Linked DNA regions of Homo sapiens. The protein of the gene in region 2 interacts with the protein of the main gene of each other region in a pairwise test. Each region holds a gene or a part of one and is shown on either strand. Other genes may lie near its edges. The genes, in order: GAD2 and FAM114A2.

Evidence for each region.
Region 1: the proteins of FAM114A2 (region 2) and GAD2 interact in binary tests that used the Homo sapiens proteins (3 or more experiments, as listed by UniProt).

Annotation. Positions count from the first base shown.
Region 1 is NC_000010.11:26,215,209-26,219,607, reverse strand, and holds the start of GAD2 (glutamate decarboxylase 2), read right to left. Parts: upstream 2,835-4,399; 5' UTR 2,799-2,834; coding exon 2,723-2,798; intron 1,999-2,722; coding exon 1,939-1,998; intron 1,767-1,938; coding exon 1,617-1,766; intron 566-1,616; coding exon 332-565; intron 1-331. UniProt on the Homo sapiens protein: Catalyzes the production of GABA.
Region 2 is NC_000005.10:154,028,836-154,032,647, forward strand, and holds part of FAM114A2 (protein FAM114A2), read right to left. Parts: intron 746-3,812; coding exon 654-745; intron 1-653.

The DNA.
Region 1 (4,399 bases), on a different chromosome or scaffold from region 2:
CACTTTGAGTTCTTTCTGCTGGTCTCTGCTGATGAATATTTGCTTCTATACCAGTGGTATAACCTCCGTGTCCAAATACATGCAACGTAAAATCTGATGATTTACACTTAAATCATGTTTCTGACATTATCAACTTCAGAAGCATGAACAATAGCAGTGGAAGGTGCTTTGGATTAGAATCATTCTAATAATGACTATTTTTTACATGATGAAAATAACTTTGCAATTTTGAAAATATCAGTAACTCCATCAAACAAAACATTTTATAGAAAAAAATAAAATAAAAATTGTAAACGAAAAAAGAGCTTTATTATTTTCGATGAGACAATACCTGTTTTAATTGCATATTTTAGAGTTGTTTGGCAATGCATCAAAATTTCCTCCAAATTTTGTGGTTGGTCTGCCAATTCCCAATTATATTCTTGGAGAAGCTCATTAGGATAATGGAAATCAATCACTTTGGTTGATCTATCGAAACTTTTCACCACATACTGAAGTAAAATGTTCATAACATCTTGCAGAAACGCCAAAGTGGGCCTTTCTCCATCACACGCCGGCAGCAGGTCTAAAGAATGAAATTAAAATGCCACATTTTAATTTTACTTTGAAAATATTCAAGGCAAGATCTTGATGAGGCAATAACATTTCTTTGAATTGAGAGATTTCATGTTAGATAAAGCTTTTGGAAAGGCAGAACATTTTTCTTTAAAAGGGAGACATTTTTCAAAGGTGAAGGGAATGAATGAGATAAATTATGATTTCTTCTCTTCCCCAAATTAATTACTGCATTTCAATTCATAACTTATATTGTTTGCCTTCTTTTTTTGAAGAGCGTGTACCTCCGTTTATCTAGTTCACAGGAGTTCGTCTTAAACGTGTTTCTCAGTAAACCATCTTACATGTTTACATAAATATTTCACGTCAGAAGTGTTTGTCTCGAATGCCTTCGGGCAAACCAAAGTGGAACAGGTGCATTAGGATCTCTGGTCTGATAGGAAGGCCCGCTGTTTCTAAAGTCAGTGTGTGTGTGTGTGTGTGTGTGTGTGTGTGTGTGTGAGAGAGAGAGAGAGAGCGTATGCATGTGTGTCTGCATGTGTGTGTGCGCGCGTACATTTGGGAGACGGTGTGTAAGTGCACGGGGGTAAAACTCGGCGCGCGGGTTTCATGTGAATGGAATCGTTCTCTTGTGCAATTGCAGCTACAAATCACTCTCGTGATCTAAAGACCTAAAAAAAATGCAATTCTGAATTCTCGGGCACGGTATTTGGAAACTGAGTCCCACCCGAGGCCCCAGCGGCCTAGGGAAGCCAGCCGTCATCGATTCAGTGAGCGCACGAGCGCCTGGATCGTCGGCCACCCGCCATCCCAAGGGCCGCGCTGGGGGAAGAGCGCCACGGCCTCAGAGCCCTCTTGGAGCTCCGAGGCCAGGTTCGGGGGCTTGGACCCAGCGGGCAGGTCCCGCATTTCTCGCTTTTATCTGAAGATTCTGGCAGGTCCCGCCTCCGCTGCCACCTCGACGCCCCTGTCCGGCTCTCAGCGCCGGACCCGCACCGGCCGCGGTGGGCGGGGCAGAGAGAGGGGCAGGGGCGCCCCGGGGCTCCCCGCTGAGTCTTTACCTGTTGCATGGAGAAACGCGTAGTTGACATCCACTTTGGAGCAGCTGCAGGGCTTCTGGTCGCAGGCGCAGGCGGCCTTCCGGGCGGCGGCCCGCGGGGGTTGGCTCCCGCCGCTCTCCGCCGGCTTCTCGGCGTCTCCGTAGAGCAGGGCTGGGTAAGGACACCGAACGCGGGCCTCGTCAATCCTCCGCCGGGCCCGGCTCCCTCGCTCCCGCCTACCCGCAGCCAGGAAACCCCGACTCCGCTGACTGGGATGCGGAGGTGAGAAGACTGCTTGGACCCCGCGGGCCGACCTTGGCCGCCCCGGTCCCTGGGCACTCACCGCACAGTTTGTTTCCGATGCCGCCCGTGAACTTCTGAGCCACTTGGCACCAGGCTCGCGCTGCAAGGAAGAATAGGCAGGCAGACAGCGAGGCAGAAAGAGAACAACAGACGGACGTGTGAAATTTCGTTCTATGTGAAAATCAATCAGTCCGGGGTCCTAGGAGGGGCCGCCTTCCTCCTGGGGGCCGCTCAGGACTCGGTGAGGCCGGCAGGTGCAGAAGGCAAGCGGGAGGCTGGCGGCCCGGGCCAGCCCTCATTTCCTTTATCTGTTTCCCGAGGAGAAGCCCACACCGCTGCCCTTCCAGGTGCCAATCGGCTCAGGCAAATTCCTCTCCCTGCCTACCTTGGACGAGTTTTCCTAAACACTGAAGCTATCCATTTTTTCGCAGACTGTCTTTCTAGATAAAGAAATCTCTCACCTTTCCCATTTTTTTTTTCTATCTTCACGGTCACTCCGTCCCACCCCAGGGTCCAGACACCCGGATCTTAGCAGCGCCCCAGGACCACGGAATTCCATGTCCCCGAGACACCGCGGTCTTTGGGGGGCTCTTCCAACCTTCTGTGGAACGGGCCTGAGACTATTTGGGCGTCTTCCCAGGGTACAAGAGGCTGTAGAGGTCTTGAGCTCTTGGGCCGTCAAGGACTTAGCCCAAAAGCAGGGAGAAGCGCCCGAAGAAGTTTCCTGTTGCAGGTGGAAAAACCTCCTTCGTCTTCTCCGTAGTTCCGCAAACCCCAGACCACCGCAAAACTCGCCCGCCGCAGGCCCCCGTTCTCCTTCCTACCTGTGCCGGGATTCTCGGAATCCCCAGAGCCATCTTCCGACCCGAAAGACCAAAAGCCAGAGCCCGGAGATGCCATCGGCTTTGGAGACTGGAGCAGGTCGCCTGCGAGTGCGAGCTGCGGGCGAGCTGCCTCGGGCTTGGCCCTGCGCGCGCGTGCGTGCCCGTGTGGCGGGAGGAGGGCACCGCGCGGGGACCGGCGGGGCCGAGCGGCGAGGGCGGGTGTCACGCAGGAACAGAAAACGTGCGTGTCTGTGCGTGTGTGTATGCGAGCTGGAGACAGGGTTTAGGGACGTGGCAACCCTTTGGAAGCCGGGGAGCTTTAAAAGAGACCGGGACTACCTAAGGGTCCTCGGAGCCCGGACTCAGGAAAGCGCGGAGAGCCCCAGAGCATTTGAGGGAAAGGGAGCCCAGTGGGGATGAATGAGGGGGCGGCGGAGGAAAAAAACACGAGAGAGGGAGGGAGCTGAGTCGTGAGGATGCGAGGCAGACCATGCACGCCAGCTGGAGTCAGAGTGAGGGGGTGGGAGGCGTGCCAGCGCGTCCTCGGGCGAGCCAGAGGCGGGAAGTGCGGGCGGCCGCTGTCCCGGGTGCTGCCACAGCCGCTGCGCGCCAGCGTCAGCGAGGGGCAGACTGGGGAGACCTCGGCGAGGCGGGAAGCGTGGCCCAGAGGAGTTTTCTGTGTGCATCGATTGGGGTTTTGTTTGAGGTCTGGCTCCAGCTGAGGGGAAGGAAGCGGGGTTCCCGCGCCGTTTTCCTCCAAGCAGGTGCTGAGGTCACTGCGACCTCGAGAGCTCGCGCCCCGGGCGGGCATCAGGCGCCGTTCACGAGCCTGGGGAGGGGACGGCGGGGGAAGGGCTCCTACCCGCTGATGGGCTCATTTCAGCGCCTTGGTAGAACCTGACGCCTGCCTGCTGAACCGCGCCGTACCCGGGGGCGCACCGTTCCTGCGTAGCCAAGGGCTAGATCGCGGGACCCACCGTCCAGGCTCTGAGTGACGGCTGGGGAGAATGACTGCTGATTGAGGCAATTAAAATCCACGCTGGAGTCTACTGAGGACCTCGGGCTGGGGAAAAAAAAATAAAACGAATGGAAACTTCTTGGAAGAGAATGAGGCAGAGCGGCCAGAGTCGGCAGGATTGATGGCGGGTGGGGGATGGAATCAGGGCATTTGGTGACCTTGGCCCGCGGAGGCGTGGAAGCGCCCGCTGCTTGCGTGTAAGGGGGATCTGTGTGCGCCTGGGAGGGGAGAACAGGGTTTCCAACTAAGCAATCTCGGCTTTACAAATCCGAGTAGGAAAGAAGGCATCGCCTGCAGGGCCCTCGTTTTAAGGGGCTTCAAACCAATGCCCCCCCTCGCCCCCAGAGAATCTTCGCGGTAGCGGGTGACCCGGAAGCGCGAGATTGGTTCTCTCTGAGGCGTATTAGGAGGCGGTTTCTCTTTTTCTAATAAAGAAAGGAGGAGAAAGTCAGAATCGTTCTGATGATTTCCTTTCTACAAAAAGCTATTGCAGACAGGGAGGACGCCCTAAGGATTGGGAGCCCTTTGACAGTTTGCGCTGCGTTCTCCTGGCAGTGGAGATGAACTTCAAGTGCACCTCGGAGCTCCGGGGCTCTGGGGGAGACGGAGGGAGGGAGAGAGAGGAAAGGGCTGAGGTCGGCTTCCCGAGGCGGCTGCCT
Region 2 (3,812 bases):
TATCTTGGTGCAGGAGAGGGGGAGAGCAGAAGACACAGAAAACTGGGAGAGGACACAAGATGGTGGGGAGATCTGATTACGGTAATACTGTTTCTTACTCTGGGTGTTTCACACTGAAAATTCAAACAACACTTGTTACATTCTTCTGTATGTATATTTCAATAAAAAGTTAAAATTTAAAAAAAACTAGCTATCTATCCTCATGTAGCAAAGATATTTAGCTTCCTAGATAATCCTCTTACAAATGTTTTTAATCATACATAGTTTTGCAAATATCTGTCATAAAGATCACATTTCCCCTTTGCCTAAAAGATGCAACTATGAGAAAAATATTTTTGTAAAGTAGACATTTTTTAGGGCCACCAAATTAAGAATTCCTAATCCATAAAATAATACGTATATTGCCTCTCTGTAACTCCTACTCCCTTATTTATTGCTACTCCTTTATTTCCTACTTTCTTCCTTATTGCTTTAATGAAAGTTTTCAAGTAGCATTCACTCCACCCATAAGACCAAAGTGACCGATCTTCAGTGGCTTGGACTCCTTTAAAAGTAATCAGTCCACATGGCTGTTCAAAGAAAAGAGAGAGAAAGATATGCAAACCCATTATAATAATGGAAAGGAACAGACCACCTTGCACTTTTTTACTTACTGTGCTCTGAACAGCAGTAGAGATGGTAGAGAATACACCAAATGCCCCAGCCACTGGGGAGGAGTTTTCATTCTCTTTGGCATTTGTCTCTCCTACAAGAGGGAGGGGATGTGTAAACATGAAGGGAAGGTCCCTTAACTCTCAGGCTTTATTAGCATCTATGTGAATTTTTTAAAACTAGACCCTGCTTACTACATACTAGGCCTTAGCCCTTTTTATCATTTTAAACCATTTGCTTATTTTAAAATGAAAGCTAAGATAGGCAGTTTTCATTTTCTTTTCATTTCGAAAATAAAATCCAGTTTTGTAAACAAACTGCTGATATATACAACAGCCTATATGTTGTATGATTCCAATTATATAATCTTCTGGACAAGGTCAAACTGTAAGGTCAGAAAACAGATCAGTAATTGCTAAGAACTGAGAGTAAGGAGAACAGTGACTACAAAAGGACGTGAGAGAACCTTTTTGGGGTAATAAAAATTTTCTTATGTCTCAATTATCAATACAGATATAGGAAACATTCTATATATCTGTATTGATCATTCTATATAGAATGTTTTCTATATCTGTATAATCACAGTGTACTATGATTACACAGTATAAACAGAAGTATATATACTGATCAAAACATGTAAAACTGTACACCTAAAAAGAATAAATTTTACTGTGTGTAAATTATAATTTGATAAACCTGATTTTTAAAAATCCAGTCTATTTTAAATTTTATCCTAGAAAATTATGATTAGTAGAAATCAAACAGACATACATTACAAAGATAGGTATGTTTCAAAACAAAAATCCATTAACTTAAAAATTTCACATAGGAGAACAACCATTATACCAAATAATTTCAGTATTATCAAATATTATAGAGAGGACTTCCACTTCTAGCATGATGGATTAACTGGTATTAGATATGACCTCCTGCCACAACAACTGAAAAACTGGACAATATATAAGAAGCAACTGTCTTCAGACATAGGACAATAGGCAGTACAAGACTTCGGTTCACACAAGAAGAACAACAAAGTAAACCTTACAATTGGCTTGGCTTTCTGTATAGAGGAGCTTTCCAGGCCATGACAGAGGGAGGAGAAACCCAAGTAGGGCATGGCAATCAGTTTGAGTGGAAGAAACGGAGACTGGAATCTGGGAATGCTGAAGCAATCGGAATTTGCAGGTCAGAAAACCGTAGAGGAGGAAGCTACATAGCTAAAAAGTTCTAAGAATCCGCATAGGCATGCCCTAAGACACCTTTAGGTGTTTTTGCTTAAATACTGCACTGCTGAGGCACTGGGAGGCTCCATAAGTCTGTACAAAGAACTACCATGGAGCTCTAAGCTAAGCAATCCCCAGAGCTCACGCTAGGCTGAGAGACATTTGACCTCCAACCACAAAAGCAGAGACTTTATATTAAACACCTGGGAATTAAGGTGGAGACTTCGGAAGAGTCAAGCCTTAGCAGCAGAGATAAACAGTACTTAGTTAGAGTAAAGGCCACTATAGACTCACCCTAAACAAGCTTTACAAAAAGTCTTGGCCAGACACAGCAGCTTATACCTGTAATCCCAGCACTTTGGGAGGCCGAGGCAAGAGGATCACTTGAGGTCAGGAGTTTGAGACCAGCCTGGCCAACACAGCAAAACCTCACCTCTATTAAAAGTACAAAAATTAGCCAGGCATGGTGGCCCATGCTTGCAATCCCAGCTATTTGGGAGGCTGAGGCAGGAGAAGAACTTGAACCCAAGAGGCAGAGGCTGCAGTGAGCTGAGATCGCACCACTGTACTTCAGCCTGGGCGACAGAGTGAGACTCCCTCTCCAAAAAAAAAAAAAAAAGCCTTAAAGCATCAATTTAAGTTGCAAATACCTTAACTGCCCGCCGACAAAAGGAAAGCAGAAGATAGCCCCCTTTAAAGGAAGAAAACAAAATCCCTAATAGATGATCAATGATTTCCATCAATGGCCTATGCTTATCTCAAAATTCTGAAAATATACATGTTGACTACAAGACACATCCTTGGCAGAGGAATTAACCTCCTTCCTCAGGAACTTTAGAAGATAGAAGGGGTTTAGTATCAAAAGGCAGTCCATTGTAATTTTGGAAAGTTCTCCCTGTTAAACTCTTTATTAAACTAAAACTTAACTCTATATAACTTCCACTGAGTGGTACTAGTTACTAGTTCTCCCCATAAACCATGAATAATAAACCTAATCCTCTTCTCCATGCTAGTCTTCAGAAAAAGACCAGGATATTCTCCCAATCTCCCTTCTCCAGATTACCAGATTCAATCTCTTATAAGACTTTCTCTTGTAAGACTTTAATTCTAGACATTTCACTATTGTGAAAGAAAATAAAACTCAGGACCCCAAATTTACTATGCCAAAGGGAACAGTTAAGCTGAAAGCTAAGTTACACAAAAACTGTCTTTCCTTTTGTTCCTAAGCAGAAAGGCCAGACAGAAGGCCAGATGTTTCCACAGGTAGCTACTCTACGTTTACTTTATTTCATGTAAACTGCCAATTTACTGAGCATAAGACAAATACATAATTGACTCTACCTCTGCTCTTTCCTTTTACACGTAAAATGTGGATTCAGTGAACACTGATCAAAGATTCAAAAGAAGGCAACCACTTGCCCCTCTTATCTACCCTCCCCTTTCTTTACTTCCTCTTTCCCCTAGAGCCCACTCTTCTTCCTTTAAATATTGAAGTCACCAGACCCTCTTCAAAAAAAGTATGGAAGGTAGATTGTTTCTGTGGTTTGTGTTCCTTTTTCCCAGGTGCATCCTCAAACTTAGCAAAATAAACCTCTAACTTGATTGAGACCTGTCTCAGACACTTTTTGATTCACACTATCTAGCTGACTCTTTTCTGGATTCACCCAGTTTTTCAAAGCCCTTCTTAAAACATGGCCCTCTGTGGTAGATATCTTTCAGTGTCATGAAGATGCTGCTGTTAACATATTCAAAGCCACTTCTAACCCCCTTTTTCCTTGGCTGCTAAACCCATATCCTGATCTTGAGGTTTCTGATAATGCCCAAAACGCACTCTCTCAGCATCTCTTGCTGCTACATCAAGAACATGAGATCCTGTTCTAGGCAATGGCATTGGAGAAGAAACATGCTTGGGACTCCTGGAAAACATTTCCCCTCTTT